Regions from separate parts of the Homo sapiens genome. Here region 1 is linked to region 2. Evidence: fine-mapped expression QTL. A gene starts in region 2. The other region holds a variant in brackets. All regions are shown on one strand. Distances are between the middles of the regions.

What was found.
Region 1: its variant is fine-mapped to the expression of PPOX in skin (TwinsUK, PIP 0.95).

Annotation. Positions count from the first base shown.
Region 1 is chr1:161,328,576-161,343,572 of GRCh38, forward strand. It overlaps SDHC (succinate dehydrogenase complex subunit C), which reads left to right. Exons shown (of 6, transcript NM_003001.5): 4 at 12,019-12,080. Among named protein-coding and RNA genes, the nearest start is that of SDHC, 22 kb to the left of the region's middle. The variant TTTTC/T (reference allele first, on the strand shown) is at 4,053.
Region 2 is chr1:161,162,142-161,170,342 of GRCh38, forward strand. PPOX (protoporphyrinogen oxidase) reads left to right here and starts at 4,285. Exons shown (of 13, transcript NM_001122764.3): 1 at 4,285-4,531; 2 at 4,699-4,793; 3 at 4,959-5,093; 4 at 5,230-5,345; 5 at 5,854-5,986; 6 at 6,291-6,435; 7 at 6,852-7,042; 8 at 7,519-7,579; 9 at 7,765-7,883. The coding sequence starts at 4,707. It overlaps USP21 (ubiquitin specific peptidase 21), which reads left to right. Exons shown (of 14, transcript NM_001014443.3): 5 at 129-249; 6 at 474-585; 7 at 778-933; 8 at 1,414-1,478; 9 at 1,737-1,840; 10 at 2,023-2,109; 11 at 2,393-2,471; 12 at 2,694-2,801; 13 at 2,888-3,002; 14 at 3,216-3,582. The coding sequence ends at 3,306. RefSeq lists an enhancer at 5,340-6,003.

The DNA of each region.
Region 1 (14,997 bases), 170 kb after region 2:
ACTTCCCTCACTTTTACTCAACCAAAATACTGCTATGTAGATGAGGTGAACCCTTCAGGGTAGAGGGAGATGACATAAGGATTATCTTACACCTTTTTTATGTGGAGATGACTAAATTCTATCTTGTCATTACAAGGGTAATCTATTTTGCAAAACTACCATTTAGAAAATTCTGGTAAGTCAAAATATAATTCCCATTAATTAAAACATTTTTGAAACAATTTCAAATTTACATAAACGTTGCAGAAATAACATACAGAGTTCCCATATACCTTTATATGGAAGGTATATAGTATATATGCTAAGTTATATAGAAGTTGCAACTTTGCAAATTCTTCTTCTTTTTTTTCTGAGACAGAGTCTTGCTCTGTTGCCAGGCTGGAGTGTAGTGGCGCGATCTCAGCTCACTGCATCCTCTGCCTCCCGGGTTCAAGCGATTCTCCTGCCTCAGCCTCCCGAGTAGCTGGGGCTACAGGTGTGCACCACTACGGCCAGCTAATTTTTGTATTTTTAGTAGAGATGGGATTTCACCAGGTTGGCCAGGATGGTCTTGATCTCTTGACCTAGTGATCCGCCCGCCTCGGCCTCCCAAAGTGCTGGGATTACAAGTGTGAGCCACCATGCCCGGCCACAACTTCTTAAATTATTCAGACATGCTAATAAGCAGATTCCCAGCTGCTTAACATGTCTGAATGATACAAGAAGAAGTTGCAATGATGATGATATCCAAGTATTATTCCTGTATTTGTTTTCTTCTTCTTTTTTTATTTTTCTGAGGCAGAGTCTTGCTTGGTCACCCAGGCTGGAGTGCAGTGGTGCGATCTAGGCCCACCGCAACCCCTACCTCCTGAGTTCAAGTGATTCTTGTGCCTCAGCCTCCTGAGTAGCTGGGATTACAGACATGAACCTCCATGCCCGGCTAATTTTTGTCTTTTAGTAAGAGATGAGGTTTTGCCATGTTGTCCAGGCTGGTCTCAAACTCCTGGCCATAAGTGATCCACCCACCTCGGCCTCCCAAAGTGCTGGGATTATAGGCATGAGCCATCACGCCCAGTCCCTGTATTTGTTTTCTATTGCTACTATAACAAGTATCACAAACTTAGTGGCTTAAAATAACACAGATGTATTGTCTTACCATTCTTTAGGTTAGAAGTACAACACAGGTCTCATTAGGCTAAAATTAAGTTGTTTGCAGGGGCTGCATTCTTTTCCAGAGGCTCCTTGCCTTTTCCAACTTTTATAGGCCATCCACATTCCTTGGGTTATGGCATTCTTTTTCTATTTTCAAAGCAAGCAATAGCAGAGTCCTTCTCGCTTTGTATCACTCTGACTTCTTCTACCTCCCTTTTCTCCTTTCAAGGGACCCTTGTCATTATATTTAGACCTCCCCAAATATTTCAGGACAATGCCTCCATCTCAAGGTCTTTAATTTAATAATATCTGCAAAGTTCTTTTTGTGATATAAGATAATATATTCACAGGTTCTGGGGATTAATACATTGACACCTCTGGAGGGGAGGGTGCATTATTTTACCTACCACAGTCTACCCTCTAGCCCTCAAAGTTTATGTCTGTCCCATGACAAAATACATTCACCACATCGCGGTGGCCCCAAAAGTTTCAACCTACTGTAGCCTCATCTCAAAGTCTTAAAATTTCATCTAAATCTCCCCATCTGAACCAGATATGGGTGAGGCTCTGGGTATAATCCTTTTGAGGAACATTTTCTCTTCATCTGTGAATCTAAAGCAACAAGTTACATACTCCCAAAATACAGTGGTGGGACAGACATAGGATAACAACTGTAGACATTCCTGCTCAAAAAGTGAGAAAATGGAAGGAAAAAAGGAGTCTCTGGTTCTAACCAGGTTTGAAATTCAGCCAGGCAAACACCATTTGATTTCAAGGCCTGAGAATAATCCTTTGCAGCTATTGGCTTTGCCCTCTGGGCTTATAGCTCCATCCGCTATCCTTCTTTGTGAAAGGTGACACATGCTTTTGCAGCTGAGTCATTTTTAACAGCCTCTTTTTTGTCTGTAGAAATTTCGGGGTATGACAGTCTTCTTTTCATCTTCTCTCTGTCACTTTTAGTCTATGCTGGCAGTATTTCTGTTGGTATAACATTCTTAAGAACATTGTTGGGACCAGGCGCGATGGCTCACATCTGTAATCCTAGCACTTTGGGAGACCAAAGCAGGTGAATTTCCTGAGCTCAGGGGTTTGAGACCAGATTGGGCAACATGGTGAAACCCTGTCTCTACGAAGATACAAAAAATTAGCCAGGTGTGGTGGTGCGCCTGTAGTCCCAGCTACTTGGGAGGCTGAGGCACAAGAATCTCTTGAACCTGGGTGGTGGAGGTTGCAGTGAGCCGAGATTGCGAGATTGTGGCGCCACTGCACTCCAGCCTGGGCTCTGTTTCCAAAAAAAAAAAAAAAAAAAGAGAACCTTGTGGGTCTCCTGCTTGTGTCATGGGAATTTGCTCCATTAGACAAGACGTTCCCTTATAGAATTTTCCTAAATAATCCTGCCTCTGTTTCTGCCTTCTGATGAGATGGTTGAGGGGATCTACTAGTAACATGCTTAATTTCAAAACGCCTTTTATGTGACTAAATATTCTGCCCTTTCAATCTTTCTCAGGTATTAACATAAGGTTACATGGCCACGCCCTGACTTTTTCTTTTTGCCAATGAATATCCTTTTTTTTTTGTCCAGACAGAGTCTCACCCAGTCACCCAGGCTGGAGTGCAGTGGCACGATCTGGGCTCATTGCAACCTCCGCCTCCCAGGCTTAAGCAATCCTTCCACCTCAGCCTCCTGAGTAGCTGGGACTACAGTGCATGTCACCACGCCCAGCTAATTTTTGTATTTTTTTATAGACATGGTGTATCACCATCTCTATAAAACCATGTTGCCCAGGCTGGTCTCAAGCTCCTGGGCTCAAGTGATCTGCCTGCCTTGGCCTCCCAAAGTGCTGGGATTATGTGTGAACCACTGTACCAGGCCTTGACAGTAAATATCTTTTTTTTTTTTTTTTTCTGAGACAGAGTCTCACACTATTGCCAGGGCTGCAATGCAGTGGCGCAGTCCCGGCTCACTGTAACCCCCGCCTCCCTGGTTCACGCGGTTCTCCTGCCTCAGCCTCCCAAGTAGCTGGGATTACAGGCGCACACCACCATACCTGGCTAATTTTTTGTATTTTTCGTAGAGACGGGGTTTCGCTATGTTGGCTAGACTGGTCTTGAGCTCCTGACCTCGTGATCTGCCCGCCCTGGCCTCCCAAAGTGCTGGGATTACAGGCATGAGCCACCGCGCCTGGCAACAGTGAATATCTTAATTTTAGTATTTTTGCTGGGAAGGCTGAGAATTTCCCAAATCATTAAGTCCTGTTTTTTTGTTTGTTTGTTTGTTTTATTTAAGAGACAGGGTTTCACTGTGCCACCCAGGCTGGAGTGTAGTAGTGGTGTGATCATAGCTCGTTGTAACCTTGAACTCCTGGACTCAAGTGATCTTCCTGACTCAGCCTCCTGAGTAGCTGGGACTACAGGTGCATGCCACCACACCTGGCTAGTTTTTAATTTTTTGTAAAGACGGTCTCAATATATTACCCAGGCTGGTCTTGAACCCCTGAGCTCAAGCGATCCTCTCACCTTTTTCTCCCAAAGTGTTGGGGTTACAGCTGTAAGCCACCGTGCTCAGCTTGCTTTTTATTTAACAGCTCTTCCCTCAGTCTGTTTCTTTCCTTTCACATTTTACTATAAAGAGCAAAAAGAAATCAGGTTGCCACTTCAGTAGATTCTGCTTTCCACATTATCGTGGGACATAATTCTGCTAAACTTTCTGCCCTATGTAACAAGGATCCCCTTTCCACAAGTTTTTAATAACATGTTCCTAATTTCCTCCTGAGCCTTTACTAGCTGAATTAACATTCATATTTTCCTTTTTGAAATACAATTTGTATACCATACGGTTCACACATTGAAAGCATACAGTTTAGTGGCTTTTGTTAAATGCAGAGTTGTTCAGCCATCACCACAATTTTAGAATATTTTCT[TTTTC/T]TTTCTTTTTTTTTTTTTTGAGATGGAGTCTCGCTCTGTTGCCCAGGCTGGAGTACAGTGGCATGATCTCGGTTTACTGCAACCTCTGCCTTCTGTGTTCAAGTGATCTCCTGCCTCAGCCTCCCAAGTAGCTGGGATTACAGATGTGCATCACCATGCCTGACTAATTTTTGTGTTTTTAGTAGAGACAGGGGTTTCACTGTGTTGGCCAGGCTGGTCTTGAACTCCTGACCTCAGGTGATCTGCCTGCCTTGGCCTCCCAAAGTGCTGGGATTATAGGCATGAGCCACCATGCCCAGCCAATTTTAGAATGTTTTCATCACTCCAGAAAGAAACACTACATTTCTTAGCCATCACCACCAATCGTTTGTCCCTCCCAGCTCTAGACAATCAGTTATTTACTTTCCATCTTATAAACTTACCTATTCCGAACATTTCATTTAAATGTAGTGATAAAATATGTGGTCCTTTGTGACTGGCTTCTTTTACTTACCATAATGTTTTCAGCGTTCATCCATGTTTTAGCATATATCAGTGCTTCCTTCCTTTTTATGGCCGAATAATATTTCATTGTATGTACATACAGTGTTTTATTTACCCATTTATAAATTGATGGACGTTTGAGCTGTTTCCACTTTTTGGCTATTAGAAATAATGCTGCTATGACCATTTATTTGTGTACAAGTTTTTGTGTGCACATATGTTTCATTTCTCTTGGGTATATACCTAGGAGTAGAATTATTGCATCATATGGTAACTCTATGTTTAACTTTTTTTTTTTTTTTTTTTTTAAAGACGGAGTCTCGCTCTGTTGCCAGGCTGGAGTGCAGTGGCGCAGTCTCAGCTCATTGCAACCTTCACCTCCCAGGTTCAAGCGATATTCCTGCCTCAGCCCCCAAGTAGCTGGGACTACAGGCATGCGCCACCGCGCCCAACTAATTTTTCTATTTTTAATAGAGACGGGGTTTCACCATGTCGGTCAGGATGGTCTTGATCTCTTGACCTCATGATCCACCTGCCTCAGCGTCCCAAAGTGCTGGGATTACAGGCATGAGCCACGGCATCCGGCCTATGTTTAACATTTTGAGGAACTACCAGACTGTTTTCCAAAGTGACTGTACCATTTTACATTCACACTAGCAGTGTATAAGGGTTCTAGTTTCTCCACATCCTCACCAGCACAACATCCATATTTCTACTAAAATCTGTTCAAGGCAATCTGGGCTTTTTAAAAATCATGGTCCTAAAAATTCTTTTAGTCCCTTCCCACTGCCCAATTTCAAAGGCACTTCCACATTTTTGGGTATTCGTTACAGCTGCACTCCTCTTCTAGTTACCACAATCTATACTAATTTTCTATTTGCTGCCATAACAAATTACTGCAAACGTTGTGACTTAAAACAACACAAATTTATTACCTTATAGTTCTGTGGGTCAGAAGTTTGACAAGATCTCCCTGGGCTAAAATCAAGGTGTTGGCAGGGCTCTGTTTCCTTCTGGAGGCCCTAGGGAAGAATCCATGTCCTTGCCTTTCCTAGCTTCTAGAGGCTATCTGAATTCCTTGGCTTCTGCCCTCCTTCCTCCATCTTCAGAACCAGCAATGCTACATTGAGTTCTTCAGTCACATCATGCTGACCCTGCTTCCGTCATCTCATTTCTTCTTTGACTCCTTTCTTCTGTGAGCCTCTTCTGCTTTTCTTTTTTCTCATTTCTCTCTTCTGCTGTTAAGGACCTTTATGATTACACTGGGCCCGTCCTAATAATCTAGGATAGTCTATGTTGTTTTGTTTTTGAGACAGGGTCTCGCTGTGTTGCCCAGGCTGAAATGGCACAAGTTTTCTACAAGTTTTTAATAAAACTTGTGGGGCATGATCATGGCTTACTGCAGCCTTGACTTCCCAGGCTTAAGTGATCCTCCCAGGTCAGCCTCCCAAGTACCTGGGACTATAGGCATGTACCACCATGGCTGACTAATTTTTAAATATTTTCTAGAAATGGAGTTTGGCCATGTTGCTCAAGCTGGCTTTGAGCTCCTGGGCTCAAGCTGTCCTCCCACTTCGGCCTCCCAAAGTTCTGGGATTACGGCTCACTCCCTCTTTATCTTAAGGTTGTCTTATTAGCAACCTTAATTTCATCTGCAACCTTAATTCCCCTTTGCCGTAAAAGGTAACATATTCATAGGTTCTAGAGATTAGAACATGAACATCTTTAAGGAGACTATTATTCTGCCTACTACAACTTCTTAATACTTGGCTGTGCATTTCCTCAATTGCAAGACAGTCTCCAAAGTACAACCATCACAATGTTACTATCTAAACCGTAGGTCCCATTCAAATTTTGCCACTTGTCCCATTAATGTCCTTTATAGGCCTAAGATTGAACCTAGAATTATATATTACATTTAGTTGTCATGTCTCTTTTTCCTGCAGTATGGGAGAGATTTTTAGTCTTTCCTTATTTGTTATGACCTTGACGTTTTTAGAATGTTCCTTAATTTGGGTTTGTTTGGTGTTTTATGATTTATGCATTTTTGGCAGGAATACCCCTGCGGTAATGCTATACTTCTGTCAGTACATTGTATCAGGAGGCATGTGCTAATGATTTATCCCATTACTGGTGATGTTAACTTTTGTCACTGTTTAAGATGTGTCTGCTAGATTTCTCTACTGTAAAGTTACTGAATAAGGATGTTGTATTAATTAATACATATTTTGGCGGGAGATACTTTGAAACTCTAAATATTCTTTCTCATCAGATATTTACTCACCAGTATCTGTTGGAGGTACTTGCCTAAATCATTTATTACTGTGATAGTTGCCAAATGTAATGTTGCTAATTTTATATATTATAATAATATTTTCTAGATTTGTTTGTTTTGATAGGGTAAAGCTTGCTTTTTTTATCAGTATGGACTCAAGGATAATATGGATCAAGCATTAATTTCCCCAAAGGATTATACTTTGTTATTATTTATTTTGGTGTTCAAATTGTCTCAGACCTGGCCAATAGGAGTTCTTCAAAATGACTCCTGTGAAATCAGTATCTGGGTGCTAGATGTGCTCATTGCTACTAGGATGTCATTGCTTCTAGGCCCGGTCTGTGGATAGAGGTAGCATATATATGTATGCAATCTCTGTCACATACATACGTGTGTGTATATAAGTATATACATACATCATACATACATATATACATATATACATACATCTCTGTTTATCTCATCTTCAGAAGTGGCATTGATAACAGTTTTTGCTGATGTCTTTGAAGATAAGTCCCTGTAAATCTGCTTTTTGTTTTTTTAGGCTAACCCAGCAAAGCATCTTGAGCTCTGCTACTCTCTTGGGTTTCTGCCAGTGAGGCTGGCCATTTTTTAACCACCTCCACAAATACCATAACCCTTCAGTTTTTTTCCAAGCCAGATTCCAGGAATAATCCTGTTTGTAGAAACTGGACATGCCACTAAAACAGAAGGAGGCTAATAAGTGATCTTATTTCTTGCTTCTCAATCGTGAAACTTTCTTTTTTAAGAGATAAAAGTTTTAGGAGGCCCGGTGCGGTGGCTCATGCCTGTAATCCCAGCACTTTGAGATGCCAAGGTGGGTGGATCATGAGGTCAAGAGATCGAGATCATCCTGATCTCAGGTGAAACCCTGTCTCTACTAAAAATACAAAAATTAGCTGGCCGTGGTGGCACGTGCTTGTAGTCCCAGCTACTCAGGAGTCTGAGGCAGGAGAATCGCTTGAACCCGGGAGGCGGAGGTTGCAGTGAGCCAAGATTGCGCCACTGCACTGTAGCCTGGCAACAGAGCAAGGCTCCGTTTCAAAAAAAAAAAAAGTTTTGGGGAAGAATTATAATGAAAAAGAGAAAAGAGCATCCTAAATTATTCTGAATCTGTATATTTAAAGCCGTGGCCTTTTTTCACAGGTCATATAAAGAATGGTTGTAGGTTGGTGAGGTGAGTCTTTCACTACCTTATTTGCTTTTCTGGTTATGTAACTCCAGACATACTTGGGGGGAAAAAAGCAGCAGGGAACACGGGGCTATATCCAGAGTGGCATGTCAGGGAAAGATATCTGAGATACCTGAAGTCATATTTTCTATTACCCATTTTTTGGGTTTTTTGAAAGAGGCCTGGAAGTAAATGGTTAGTGATGTTAAACATCTTTTCATGTACTTATTGGCCATTGGCAGTCTGGGCTGTTGGAGAAATGTTTTTACTTTCTGGAGGTATTTTTTTATTGTTTTTTTTGCTTTTGAGGCAGAGTCTCCCTCTGTTACTCAGGCTGGAGTGCAGTGGCGTGATCACGGCTTGCTGCAACCTCGACCTCCCGGGCTCAGGCAATCCTCCTTCCTCAGTCCCCCAAGTAGCTGAGACTATAGACACACGCCACCATGTCCGGCTAATGTTTGTATTTTTTGTAGAAATGGGTTTTTTTTTTTTTTTTGCCATCTTGCCCAGGCTGGTCTCAAACTCCTGAGCTCAGGCAGTCTGCCCACCTCAGCCCCCTAAAGTGCTAGGATTACAGGCCTGAGCCACTGTGCCTGCCCACATCTTGATTTTCTATACTAGACTCTTACCTAATGTTCAAACAGGGCCTAGTGAAGAAGACTTGTCTTTGCTCCATGGTGCCCGAGGCCTCAGCTGGAAAACACAAAGGCTAGGGCCTGAATTAATCTGAAGATCCAGTCACTCACATGTCTTGGAGTTGATTCTGGCTCTTGGATGGGGCCCTTATTTTCTCACCACATAGGTCCTTTCACATGTCTTTGTAGGCTGCTTTGGGTTTCCACACAGCATGAGGAAGGAAGGAGAATTCGTAAGTCATGCAGCATTACTTCTGCCGCATTCTACCTTTTGAGGCCGTCGGTCATCAAGTCCTGCCCAGGTTCAAGGGTAGAGGCTAAATACTTGCTTGATGAGAAATGACAAGATTCTGGAAGATCCTGGGGGACTGGAAATAATATTATGGTTATTTTTAGAAAACAATATTTTTACCTTGTCATTACTGGGCTAGCCAGGCTATGATTTTAACCGTTTTTGAAAAATAGGGTAACATTTGAATTCAGCAGTTTCATATTACATCACTCCCATTTTGTATATCAGTATTTCTGAAAGATTTCTGGAACAGTGCATATGTTTCTTCTATTAGCTCTTTCAGTCATGGGATTTGATTCATCTGGTCCCAGAGCCCCAAGTGTGTTTGGAATCTTCCAATTTCCTCACCTCTTTAGGGTTTCAAGTCTTTCAGATCAATATTTGTTCTGTCTTTTTCATGCTGATAATTATTCTCTTTGACAAGAAAAATAATTGTGCAATCTGTTTCACACTCTTGTCATCAATTAGCATAAAATTGTTCATCCCAGTTAGGAGGCTGACTGTGTCAGAATACAATTTTAAAACCTCTTTTTTGTTGTCCTTGAAATTGTTGCAAGCCTCAGCTCCTTCTGGGTTTCGGTCTCCTGATTCTTCTTACCAAATTATGCTATCGTTCTCTGTCCTTGGTTATGTGTCTGTTCTTCCACCTTTTATATTTCTGTTGTTAAATCTGAGTTGATCAGAGTGGTATGTGGCTCTTCTTCCACCTTTTATATTTCTCTTGTTAAATCTGAGTTGATCAGAGTGGTATCTAGTTAGTATTAATATTTTTAATTTATTTGGGAATACTCCTTTCTTACTTACTATGACCATTTTCATTATGTAGGCAGAATTTTCTTTTGAGATCTTTTTAACCTCTTTATTTCTCTTCAAAGTGTTGAAGATACGGTTTGATTATGCTTAGTATTCTTTGTCTAAGCTAACATTCCAAGATGAGCGTTAGCTTTCTTCAGAGACTCTTGTTCTTTCCATTTTACCCACCAGTTCTCTCTTGAGCATGAGAACTAGGTCTAGAATAACAATGTTGGTTGTCCTTCAATGGAAAGTTGATGATTCATAATTTAAAAAGGGGTTTGATGATGAAAAGTATTTCAGAACTACTGTGGATTAAGAAATATATACTAAATCCAGAAGATTGGATATAAAAATTTGGGATAGGTAACTTATTAGGAAATAAGTGGTATGTTCAGTTTGGATATTTTGGGGCATATAATAAGGGAGGATTCAAGGATGACCATGTATTATATGAAACTGTGGATAAATGAAACTCAGGTTTTCTTCCATCAGTGTTATACCTGGAGAAATAGAGGGACCCAGGTTGTATTACAGTGATTGCTTTCTTTCTTTTTCTTTTTTTTGAGATGGAGTCACCCTCTGTCGCCCAGACTGGAGTGCAGTGGCGTGATCTCCATTTACGCCAAACTCCGCCCCCCGGATTCAAGTCATTCTCCTGCCTCAGCCTCCCAAGTAGCTGGGATTACAGGCATGCACCACCACGCCTGGCTAAATTTTTGTATTTTTAGTAGAGATGGGGTTTCACCGTGTTGGCCAGCCTGGTCTCGAACACCTGACCTCATGATCCACCCGCCTCAGCCTCTTAAAGTGCTGGGATTACAGGCGTGAGCCACCGTGCCCGGCCTATAGTGATTACTTTCTAATTGTATCAACTGTATTTATTTATTTAGAGGCATGGTCTCTGTCTCTCTCTCCCCAACCCGGGCTGGAGTACAGTGGCACAGTCATAGCTCACTGCAGTCTGGAGTTCCTGGCCTCAAGCGACCCTCTCACTTCAGTCTCCCAAGTAGCTGGGACCACAGGCCTCTGCCACCACACCCAGCTAATTTTTTTTTTTTTTTTCGTAAAGATGGGGTCTCATTACGTTGCCTAGGTTGACCTTGAACTCCTGAACTCAACGGCCCCCGCCTTGGCCTCCCAAAGTACTAGGATTACAGGTGTGAGCCACCATGCCAGCTCCAACTTTAATGAGTGTCTTTGACCCATGTTTCTCCTTGCGAAAGGAGTTTTGAGTTATAATCATTTTTTTTTTTCTCAGCCCTATCAGTGATGCAGTCTGGTAAAGGTAGGGATCCTTCTCCATAAATCAGTTTTCTTTATTCTTTAATTTATTTTTGTAACCTAATCCTGATACAGGTGTTTTTTTTTTTTTTTTTTTTTTTTTTTTGGAGACAGAGTTTCACTCTTGTTGCCCAGACTGGAGCTGGAGTGCAATGGTGCGATCTTGGCTCACCGCAACCTCCACCTCCTGGGTTCAAGCAATTTTCCTGCCTCAGCCTCCCGAGTAACTGAGATTACAGGCATGTGCCACCACATCCGGCTAATTTTGTATTTTCAGTAGAGACGGGGTTTCTCCATGTTGGTCAGGCTGATTGCGAACTCCTGACCTCAGGTGATCCACCTGCCTTGGCCTCCCAAAGTGCTGGGATTACAGGCGTGAGGCACCGCGCCTGGCCCAGGTTTGTATTTTTAAAGTAAAAAGTGGAAACACGGCTGGGCACAGTGGCTCACACCTGTAATTCCAGTACTTTGGGAGGCCGAGGTGGGCGGATCATGAGATCAGATCAAGACCAGCCTGGCTAAGGTGATGAAACCCCTTTACTAAAAATACAAAAATTAGGCGGACCTGGTGGCAGGCACCTGTAATCCCAGCTACTCAGGAGGCTGAGGCAGGAGAATCTCATGAACCCGGGAGGCAGAGGTTGGAGTGAGCTGAGACTGTGGCATGGGACTCCAGCCTGGGTGACAGAGCAAGACCCTGTTCCGGGGGGGTAAAAAAAAAAGTGAAAAGACAGGAATGCAAAAGCTGGTGATTTTTTGTTTTGTTTTGTTTTGTTTTAAGAAAATATTACCTATTCAGGAGAATTGCTTGGACCCGGGAAGTGGAGGTTGCAGTGAGCTGAGATCATGCCATTGCCAGCCTGGGCAACAGAGCGAGACTCTGTCTCAAAAAAAAAAAAAGAAAAAAAAGTGCCTATTTCAGAATTAGTTTATATTTTTGCCAAGATAGACTCTCTACTATGGTGTCATCTTTTCCTTTTTAAAATTGTCTTTGTGTGTTTCTTTACAGTTGGTCTCTTCCCATGGCGATGTCCATCTGCCACCGTGGCACTGGTATTGCTTTGAGTGCAGGTATGTATATGTGTTTTTACACACACATATGTGCTTCTTTGAAAAACTTGGCTGTTTCATTGGCCCTAGTCTCCGCCTCCTTTGAAACTCAGCACTTGATTTAGAGGGAACAGTAAGTCTCTTAAGTTTATTGTTCATTCATCCCTTTAACAATTAATTATGAGTTTGCACTGTGCTCAGATTCTTTTCTTCTTTTTTTTCTTTTTGAGACAGAGTCTTGCTCTTTTGCCCAGGCTGGAGTGCAGTGGCGCGATCTCGGCTCACTGCAACCTCCGCCTGCTGGGTTCCAGCGATTCTCCTGCCTCAGCCTCCTGAGTAGCTGGGATTACAGGCATGTGCCACCACGCCTGGCTAAATTTTTGTATTTTTAGTAGAGACGGGGTTTCACCATGTTAGCCAGGATGGTCTTGATCTGACCTCATGATCCGCCTGCCTCAGCCTTCCAAAGTGCTGGGATTACAGACATGAGCCACTGTGCCTGGCCCAGATTAGTTTCTTAGCAAATTTTTAAACCATTCCCTAGCACTTCCTGATATCATGTTTATTGAAATTATAGAGAGCAGAGAAATGTAATAGAGATGGGCTGGCTGACTGATCATTGATGAAACACAGTCCAACCTTATTTTTCCAGAAGCTCAGTTTTAGCACCCATTCTTATCACCTAGACATGCTCAGTCCCCCAAAGACTAGCTCACTAACCAGTCTCACAAAATCTTGATTTACAGACCAGAATGTCTATTTATTCATTTATATAATATGAACTGCAGCTACAGAGTGAATTATATACTGGTCTTAGATAATTAGTACATCCTTTTTAGGTAGGAAGGTTTATTATATGGAGTGCAGATTATAATCAGTTTTCTGGGATCTGATGTATCTTTTCACAGTAGGGATATACTTTACAAGAGGGTCAGCTAGATTTAAAAATTATGTCTGGCTGGTGCTGGAGACATAGACATTTTTGCTTTTTTATGTATTTATTTTCTCACAAGAATGTGCATGTAACATATTTTTACTTTTTTAGCTTTCCTTTATTTAGCCTTATAGCATACTTTGCTCTCCTACCCCCACCAAAAACAGAAACAAAAACTAGATTATGTTCCCTGGATACATGCTCTTAAAGCATTCTAGTTTTTCTTTCATAATCATAGTTGTAATTTACTTGTTCATTGTTGTTCTTCCTTACTGGATTGTCTGTTCCCTGAGGGCTTAGACTGCATCTGTCTGTATTTTTAATTATCTAGTAGGGTACCTAGAATGCAGTAGATAATTTAGTAAATATTTGGTGAATACAAAATGAATACCACTCTCTTTTTTGTTAATGTGTTTTATATATTTCTGTCCCAAATTTCTATTCCATTTATAATCATATTTTTTGGCTCTAGAAGTATCTTATTTTGGTCCCCTGCATATTGACTATAATAACTACCTAACTAGTATTGTATTTCAACTGGCATTTCTGTGTGATGTGATTACTAGTTTAGCTGAAAGCTATTCAGTTCAGTGGGAGCCAGAAGAGGTTATTGTACATGAGAGTGCTGCATAGGTAAATCTGAGTTTGCTCTCTATTAGTCTCCTTGAGACATTGGGGGAACTTGTGTTCTCTCCCAGCGAAGGTGATCTAGCCCATATATATCCACAGGGAGAACAGGTGCAAACTAGGAGTAGTGGAGTGCTTTCTAAAAGAAATGCTCCAATGCACTATTAGCACATACTCAACAAGACTTCTGTTCCAAGTTGATAGTCCTGGGACCTTTGCTGGCAAAGGAAAATGAGCTTATGACTTAGAACAGTGTGTAAATCCCTGCTGTGTGTACAAACTTTTCTCTCCTGTGGATAGTTCCCTGGTATGTCTTTTTTTTTTTTTTTTGAGACAGAGTTTCGCTCTTGTTGCCCAGGCTGGAGTGCAATGGCACAGCCTTGGCTCACTGCAACCTCATGAGACCAGCCTCCTGGGTTCAAGCTATTCTTCTGCCTCAACCTCTCAAGTAGCTGGGATTACAGGCGCCCACCACCATTCCCTGCTAATTTTTGTATTTTTGGTAAAGATGGGGTTTCTGAACTCCTGACCTCAGGTAATCTGCCCGCCTCGGCCTCCCAAAGTGCTGGGGTTACAGGCGTGAGCCACTGTGCCTGGCCCCTTGGTATATCTTTAACCTCATCCTAGGGAATAAGAGGAAATATCTTGCCTAGAATCGGTATGAAATTATATACCTGAGAGACAGAAGCCCCACTGTTTTACCTTATGTAAAGCTCTGTCTGAGCCCCTCCATCGCGTCTCTTTTGTTACTTTAGCCTGGGAGCAATGCCTAAGTTTTATTCATCACATCAGGCATCATTACAGTCTTGCCAGGAGATGGCCCATTTGTACAGAGTAGAGCAGATGGCAACCTTCAGGTCCTATCGTGTAAGTGTGCTCTTGCTCCAGAAATTTGATGCCAAATAGAGCTTTCGAGGTAGGAAAGGGAGTTTCTATTGACTTTTGCTTTGTTGAAGCAGTGGTGGTATTGGAAAAGTGCTCTTGTTTCTGTCTTCTGAGACCCTGAAGGATCTCTCCTAGGCTTCTGTAGACTATGTTTTTAACTGACGTGGTCATCAGTAGGGCCAGTGGCTCTAGTGTAGGGATCCTGTATTTAAGGAACTGCTGATGAGACATTGGCAGGAATTATCTGAATCTAAGCCTCTGCTATTTGCAATCTCATATATGTGTGTGTGTATATATTTATATATGTCCATTTATAGACATATATATGTAGTTTTGTTGATAAGGATAGAGACTCCTATCTAAGATCTGATGCCGTCATTTTTGTTCTTTTTCATTCCTTTGGTTGGTAAAGGGACGATGGAATCAAGGTATAAGGATGATTTGTGTTGTTAGGAATCCATATGTAGTTCCTGGTTTTTAACCTGCTTGCAC
Region 2 (8,201 bases):
ATGGTGCTGGGGGTGGGGAAAACCCACGAGCTTGGGGAAGGCATGTGGAAGGAGAGCTCTGAAGCTCTTCTAAGGCTTCCTGGGCAGTGGTCTGGAGAGATAACAGCAGTGTCCCTACTGCTCCCCAGTGCTTCCTGAATGCTGTGCTGCAGTGTCTGAGCAGCACTCGACCTCTTCGGGACTTCTGTCTGAGAAGGGACTTCCGGCAAGAGGTGCCTGGAGGAGGCCGAGCCCAAGAGCTCACTGAAGGTGGGGCAACAACTCCTGCTCCCTCTGTTCAAGTCCCTTTTTCCCCAACCACTTGCAGGTCCATCTGCCACTGGTGGTGGCCCCCAACCCTTAAATCTGGCAGTTGTATCTACTTTTCCCAGTGCCTACTTTCCTAAAGGTTATTTTCTACCCTCTGAGCCACCTTTTGCTTGCCTCTTCCAGACATTAACCTTTGTTTGCCTTCCCCACTCCCATCCCAACAGCCTTTGCAGATGTGATTGGTGCCCTCTGGCACCCTGACTCCTGCGAAGCTGTGAATCCTACTCGATTCCGAGCTGTCTTCCAGAAATATGTTCCCTCCTTCTCTGGATACAGGTGGGAGAGCTGGAGGCTATGGGATTTCTCTCTGGCCATGTCTGGGGGTAGGGCCAAGCAAGGGCCCTGGCAGCATTGTTCTGAGCCTTGAGATGTTCTTCATCCAGGAAGTGGGGACCAATATCTGGGCAGGGAATAGTGTCTGTGGACTAGGAGAGGAGTCAGTTGCCCATACTCTTTGTCTGGCTGTAGCCAGCAGGATGCCCAAGAGTTCCTGAAGCTCCTCATGGAGCGGCTACACCTTGAAATCAACCGCCGAGGCCGCCGGGCTCCACCGATACTTGCCAATGGTCCAGTTCCCTCTCCACCCCGCCGAGGAGGGGCTCTGCTAGAAGAACCTGAGTTAAGGTAAGGGTCGTTCCCTCTACCTCCTTTCCCCGTAGTTTATCAGCATCATTCACACTTCATAGAACTAAACTAGTAAAGATTGAAGATGTAGGGTCCAGGGAAACCCTTTAGTATAGAAAATAGTATGAGAAGCAACATAGAAGTAGAAGGAAGGAAGGAAGAGGGGGAGTCTAAGGGAGCAGATGGAGGCAGAAGATCATGCTAGGGATGTCACCAAATTGAAGAAGGGGATAATTCATTTACAGGTAGAGGAAGACAGCATATTCTTCCCTTATGTACATTCCTTTCTTTTCCTCTCACCTCGGATTTCCCTAGAAAGTTCATTGAGGCATTATTCTTTTGACTTTTCCTTGAAATTTAGGGAAGGAGCAGGGGTGTGGATGGGGAGTAGGGCTCTGTAGGTTGTTTCAGTGGGTGTTGGGGGTGCCCAGTGTTCCTGCTGTCTCATGGGTGCTCCCCACTTCCTTTGATCTGTGGTAGTGATGATGACCGAGCCAACCTAATGTGGAAACGTTACCTGGAGCGAGAGGACAGCAAGATTGTGGGTATGGAATGGGGCAAAGCAATGAGGGAAAATTAGTGTGTGAGGGGGGTACAGGCTTGGGGGGAAAAATCGATACTATCAAGGGGTATGGGAACAAGACTGGATGATGCAAATGTGAAGCTGTGTGAAGAGTTGATTAGGAGTGTTGGTAGTGGGAAAGGAAGGGTCAAGCAAAGGGGCAGGAAGAGATGGAAATCCAAGAAATCATCTCATAACATCCAACAATGACCTTTTCTCCTGTCCCTGTGCTTCTGTCTAGACCTGTTTGTGGGCCAGTTGAAAAGTTGTCTCAAGTGCCAGGCCTGTGGGTATCGCTCCACGACCTTCGAGGTTTTTTGTGACCTGTCCCTGCCCATCCCCAAGGTGGGATTCCAGAGGATTCCGGGGTGGACAGGACAGGGGCTCTGTGACCCAAGCCTACCCACCCCCAGAGTGTGGGCGGGAACCCTGTGGGTTTCTGGAGCAGAACTGAAGCCTGGATTGATTGAGAAGAGTTGGAAAAGGAAATTCAGAACATGTTGACCTTTCTTCCCCTTTTCCCCCAGAAAGGATTTGCTGGGGGCAAGGTGTCTCTGCGGGATTGTTTCAACCTTTTCACTAAGGAAGAAGAGCTAGAGTCGGAGAATGCCCCAGTATGTGGAGGTTCACAAGGGATACAGTAAGGGTGGGAGACCTGGGGGGACTCCATGTGGATAAAAGGGATTGCATGATGTCTTCATATGGGGAATAATATTTATGTATCTGGGTTTGTGTTGGAGTCTCAGATCTGTTCTAGTACTCCTAGAGCAAAGGGGAGAAGCCAAGAGGATCCAGCTGTAATGAAGAGCATACTAAATTTGTATGTGGATCGGGGTGTCAGAAAAGCCAATTGAGGTTAGGAGCATATTAACCTAACACTGTTTGCCATTTATTCAGGTGTGTGACCGATGTCGGCAGAAAACTCGAAGTACCAAAAAGTTGACAGTACAAAGATTCCCTCGAATCCTCGTGCTCCATATCCTAATCTTCAGATTCTTACTTCTCTTAGGATACCTCCCATACATTCTCTTTCCTCCATGTTTCCAGAGAATTGAATTTTCCTTAGGAAAAGTCTGCCACCCACTTTTCCACAAGATGCTCCCAGTGTGTCGGGAGTGGGGAGAGGACAGCTTTCAGGATAGAAGAAGTTCCCCTCAGAGGCCCACTGCCTCCCAAATGCTCCTTAACCAGGGCTTAGATCTGAATCGATTTTCTGCCTCCCGAGGCTCCATCAAAAAAAGTTCAGTAGGTGTAGACTTTCCACTGCAGCGACTGAGCCTAGGGGACTTTGCCAGTGACAAAGCCGGTGAGTCTGGTGGGGAAAGTCCTAAGGAGCCAAAGGAGTGGGGGCACAGCTCTGATTATAGAACTTGATCATCTCCAACCCCGCAGGAAGTCCTGTATACCAGCTGTATGCCCTTTGCAACCACTCAGGCAGCGTCCACTATGGCCACTACACAGCCCTGTGCCGGTGCCAGACTGGTTGGCATGTCTACAATGACTCTCGGTGAGAATAGCCTCCTATTTACATCCTGCCCCATTCCCACTCAGCCCTGACACCCTCCCCTTCTATGAAGCTCCAGGAGAGCAGAGTGCCAGGTGAAAGGAGAGGTGGAGGTCTTGCCTGATCATTTCCTGGATGCTCTGAGGTTCGGTCTTGTAGGGAGAAGGGAGTAAACAGGAATGACCACAACCCTTTCCCGATCTCCTTTTTTCCTAGTGTCTCCCCTGTCAGTGAAAACCAGGTGGCATCCAGCGAGGGCTACGTGCTGTTCTACCAACTGATGCAGGAGCCACCCCGGTGCCTGTGACACCTCTAAGCTCTGGCACCTGTGAAGCCCTTTAAACACCCTTAAGCCCCAGGCTCCCCGTTTACCTCAGAGACGTCTATTTTTGTGTCTTTTTAATCGGGGAGGGGGGAGGGGGTGGTTGTAGCTCCATTATTTTTTTTATTAAAAAATACCCTTCCACCTGGAGGCTCCCTTGTCTCCCAGCCCCATGTACAAAGCTCACCAAGCCCCTGCCCATGTACAGCCCCCAGACCCTCTGCAATATCACTTTTTGTGAATAAATTTATTAAGAAAAAATGATGTGCTTATTTGTATTTTTGCTTAGGGGGTGATAGAGAACTGAGCCAAATTGGAGTCTTCTTGGGACCCAAGTTCCCTCTCTAACAGGTGGGGGCGCTCTCAGAGCCGAGGGGGAAGGTTTCGGGGATGGTGCTGGACCCGGACCTGTGTCCCCCAGCAGTGAAGGTTATGTACTGGGAGGAAAAGAGGAAAGGCATACTTGAGTGAGGCTGCGTGCAGGCTCTGGGGCGACTGGTTTGGTCGGCGATGGGGGAGTGCCACTGTTGACAAACACTGGGTACGTTGCCGGGCGGCCCTAGCTCCCGTAGGCCCGGTCTGTTGCTAACATCAAGGAGCTGTTTATGGAGCCGCCTCCCCGTGGACTGGCCTTAAGTGTCCCTATCTATTCTCCCTACGACCAAAGCTCCTGCGGCCTTCCCTCTAGGGTTGTCACCCTAGCTGGACCTGGTAAGCTTGTGCTGGGGAACGCTAACTCCAGCATTAAGCGCTCGCCGCCTCGGTCCTGAGGAGGGCAGTGACGGGTACGGCCGCTCACTCCCAGCTCGGCGCTAACACGGTTAACCTCCAGCTCTTACAGCTGCCGTCGCTCCGCCTCTGCCAGTTCAATGTTTTATTGGTGAACGTGATCCGGGGCCTTCCAAGTCCCGCCAATCCAGATGTAGGAGAGGTAGGGTTAGGCGCGTGCCGCGAGAACAGAGTGGACGGAGCGTAGGAGAGACCGAAAAGGCTGGGGGTGGGAGTAGCGGATTTGAAGCACTTGTTGGCCTACAGAGGTGTGGCAAGCAGAGCACCTCAGAACTCAGGCGTACTGCCCGCCGCCCGAGCCCTGCGAGGGCCGATAGCGAGGGTGTGGCCCTTATCTGCACCCAGCAGAGCGCCGGCGGGGTACGGTCTTAGGACCTCGATCTCCTTCTCCCTCATTTTCTCTCATCCCTACCTATTGTGGGTGAGTCCTGGCCCCTGGACGGGGACCTCGCTGTTCCACCAGCCCATCCGTGCACACTTAGTTTCCCCTAAAGCAGTGAGTGGCCGGGATAGAACTCAAAACCGGCGGGGCTTCTGGAGCGCAGGTTGTCCCCGGTCTGCCTGTCCATATCGCCCCCTTTCCCCCAGGTTTCCGCATGGGCCGGACCGTGGTCGTGCTGGGCGGAGGCATCAGCGGCTTGGCCGCCAGTTACCACCTGAGCCGGGCCCCCTGCCCCCCTAAGGTGAGTGCTCCACTTGTGCCAGAGGGAGCTTCATTTAATGCTCTTCCCATTTCCATCAAAAGCTAGATGGATCCTGGCCCTCTGAATATGCCTCTTCCCCTCCCCTCCTGACCTCTCGCCGGCGGCTACAGGCGGTGCTGCAGTGTCTCTCCCTCTTGTCGCCAGGTGGTCCTAGTGGAGAGCAGTGAGCGTCTGGGAGGCTGGATTCGCTCCGTTCGAGGCCCTAATGGTGCTATCTTTGAGCTTGGACCTCGGGGAATTAGGCCAGCGGGAGCCCTAGGGGCCCGGACCTTGCTCCTGGTGAGAGGCTTGTGGGATGTCTAGGAGAGGTTGTGGAGGGGGCTTCCATTGGGGAATAGAGTTTAGGGGAGGAAGTATGTTTGGTGGGTCAGATCTTCCCTTAGTTTCTCCTCTTCTGAGGGCATGTGGAGAGCAGGTTTCTGAGCTTGGCTTGGATTCAGAAGTGCTGCCTGTCCGGGGAGACCACCCAGCTGCCCAGAACAGGTTCCTCTACGTGGGCGGTGCCCTGCATGCCCTACCCACTGGCCTCAGGTAACACCAGCACCTCCGCTCCTTTTACTGTGCCCTCATCCTCATATGCCTTCCATTTCTTTCTTCTTTTCTTTTTTTTTTTTTTTTTTTTTTTTTTTGAGACGGAGTATCGCTCTCGCCCAGGATGGAGTGCAATGGCGCGATCTTGGCTCACTGCAACTTCCGCCTTTCGGGTTCAAGCGATTCTCCTGCCTCAGCCTCCCGAGTAGCTGGGACTACAGGTGCCTACCACCACGTCTGGCTAGTTTTTGTATTTTTAGTAGAGATGGGGTTTCACCATATTGGCCAGGCTGGTCTTGAACTCCTGACCTTGTGATCCGCCCGCCTCGGCCTGCCAAAGTGCTGGGATTACAGGCGTGAGCCACCACGCCCGACCTGCCTTCCATTTCTTCATCTCCCTGTCAGCCTTCCCAGCAAAAGGAAGCCAAATGAGTGGAAATGACCCCAGCGCCTGGAGCTGGGGAGGTATGTCAGGAGCTTCCCCCTCACTATGCCTTTCTCCATGCAGGGGGCTACTCCGCCCTTCACCCCCCTTCTCCAAACCTCTGTTTTGGGCTGGGCTGAGGGAGCTGACCAAGCCCCGGGGCAAAGAGCCTGATGAGACTGTGCACAGTTTTGCCCAGCGCCGCCTTGGACCTGAGGTGACACTTGCCCAGAGGCCCCAAACCTCTTCCCTCCTAAACCAGCTGCAGAGCTCCCTGTTCAAATCTACCACCTAGGGGCTCTTCTGTATCATTTGGGGATGCCCTCTTCTCTTCATACCCCACCCCCTCATAATTCCCAAAACTCATTATTGGGAGTGAAGGCCTTCATTTCCATCCGTCACAGTGGGAATGTCCCCCAACCCAAACCCTATCCCACCCTCATTCCCTACCAAATAGGGGCTGTGGAAATCAGTCAGTGTAGATTATTTTTTCGCTCCTTAGTCCTAGTCTCACCCTTAAGGTGGCGTCTCTAGCCATGGACAGTCTCTGCCGTGGAGTGTTTGCAGGCAACAGCCGTGAGCTCAGCATCAGGTCCTGCTTTCCCAGTCTCTTCCAAGCTGAGCAAACCCATCGTTCCATATTACTGGGCCTGCTGCTGGGGGCAGGTGAGGGGGGATTGATTCAGAGGGTGAAAATATTAAGTACTGCCAAAGTGAGGGAGTGGGGACAAGGGGTGCTATTCAATGATTCTTTTTTTCTTTTTTGAGACGGAGTCTTGCTCTGCTGCCTAGGCTGGAGTGCAGTGGTGCAATCTCAGATCGGCTCGCTGCAACCTCCGCCTCCCAGATTCAAGCAATTCTCCTGCCTCAGCCTCTTAAGTAGCTGGGATTACAAACATGTGCCACCACTCCCAGCTAATCTTTGTATTTTTTTGTAGAGATGCAGTTTCACTATGTTGGCCAGGCTGGTCTCAAACTCCTGACCTCAAGTGATCCACCCGCCTCGGCCTCCTAAAGTGCTGGGATTACAGGTGTGAGCCACTGCATCCAGCCTCAATGATTCTTCTTTGCTTCCTCTGCAGGGCGGACCCCACAGCCAGACTCAGCACTCATTCGCCAGGCCTTGGCTGAGCGCTGGAGCCAGTGGTCACTTCGTGGAGGTCTAGAGATGTTGCCTCAGGCCCTTGAAACCCACCTGACTAGTAGGGGGGTCAGTGTTCTCAGAGGCCAGCCGGTCTGTGGGCTCAGCCTCCAGGCAGAAGGGCGCTGGAAGGTAGGGGAACCCCTGGAGTGTAATGAACCTGTCAGTGTTTCCATCTTTATCCAAGTGGCTTAACTAGGCCAGGGCCGATAGGACTGGAGTTCCTCATTGTTTTTGTGCCTTAGAAGCTACTTAGACATGGGCTACCCCAGAATCCTAGGCCCTATTTGTGAACCTTCCTCAAAGAGCCTATGCAAGTCTGTGGATAGAAGTAGTACTTATAAGTGGCTTAGAGATAGGGGAAAGAACCCAGCTTCACTGAACATTTCAGAACAGCCACACTGGCCTGTCTGGTCCACTTCCTGGAGTACACAGAGGAATGATTTTTTGTGAAGTCTACATAGTCACCCAATCTCTTCATCCTGGGTCAGTACACAGTCTCCCCGGCCACATGGGTGCCTGGGAAACTGAGAGTGAGGCACCAGAAGTCTCTTTTCACTCATCAAATTCTCATTTTCTGGGTCTCTCAAATGTTTTCATGCTCTCAGGTATCTCTAAGGGACAGCAGTCTGGAGGCTGACCACGTTATTAGTGCCATTCCAGCTTCAGGTAATGGAATAGCCACCTTCCCCTTCCCCAACCCCTACCAGTGAGAAGCAAAAGCTATACCTTCCTGGGTCAGCAGGACCACACCATGCCCCTGAACTGGTCATCTCTATGGGAGTCTAATCCCAAAGAGGACTGACAACTGTAATGGGAATGCCTTCTGAGTCAGGCCTCTGCCTGATCTCTAGTGCTCAGTGAGCTGCTCCCTGCTGAGGCTGCCCCTCTGGCTCGTGCCCTGAGTGCCATCACTGCAGTGTCTGTAGCTGTGGTGAATCTGCAGTACCAAGGAGCCCATCTGCCTGTCCAGGTATGATAAAGGGACGGAGAGGCTGGGCATGGTGGCTCACACCTGTAATCCCAGCATTTTGGGAGGCCGAGGTGGGCAGATAACAAGGTCAGGAGTTCGAGACCAGCCTGGCCAACATGGTGAAACCCCATCTCTACGAAAAATACAAAAATTAGCCAGGTGTGGTGGCTTGCACCTGTAATCTCAGCTACTCGGGAGGCTAAGGCAGGAGAATCGCTTGAACCCAGGAGGTGGAGGTTGCAGTGAGCTGAGATCTCGCCATTACACTCCAGCCTGGGTGACAGAGTGAGACTCTGTCCCCCCCACCCCCCCAAAAAA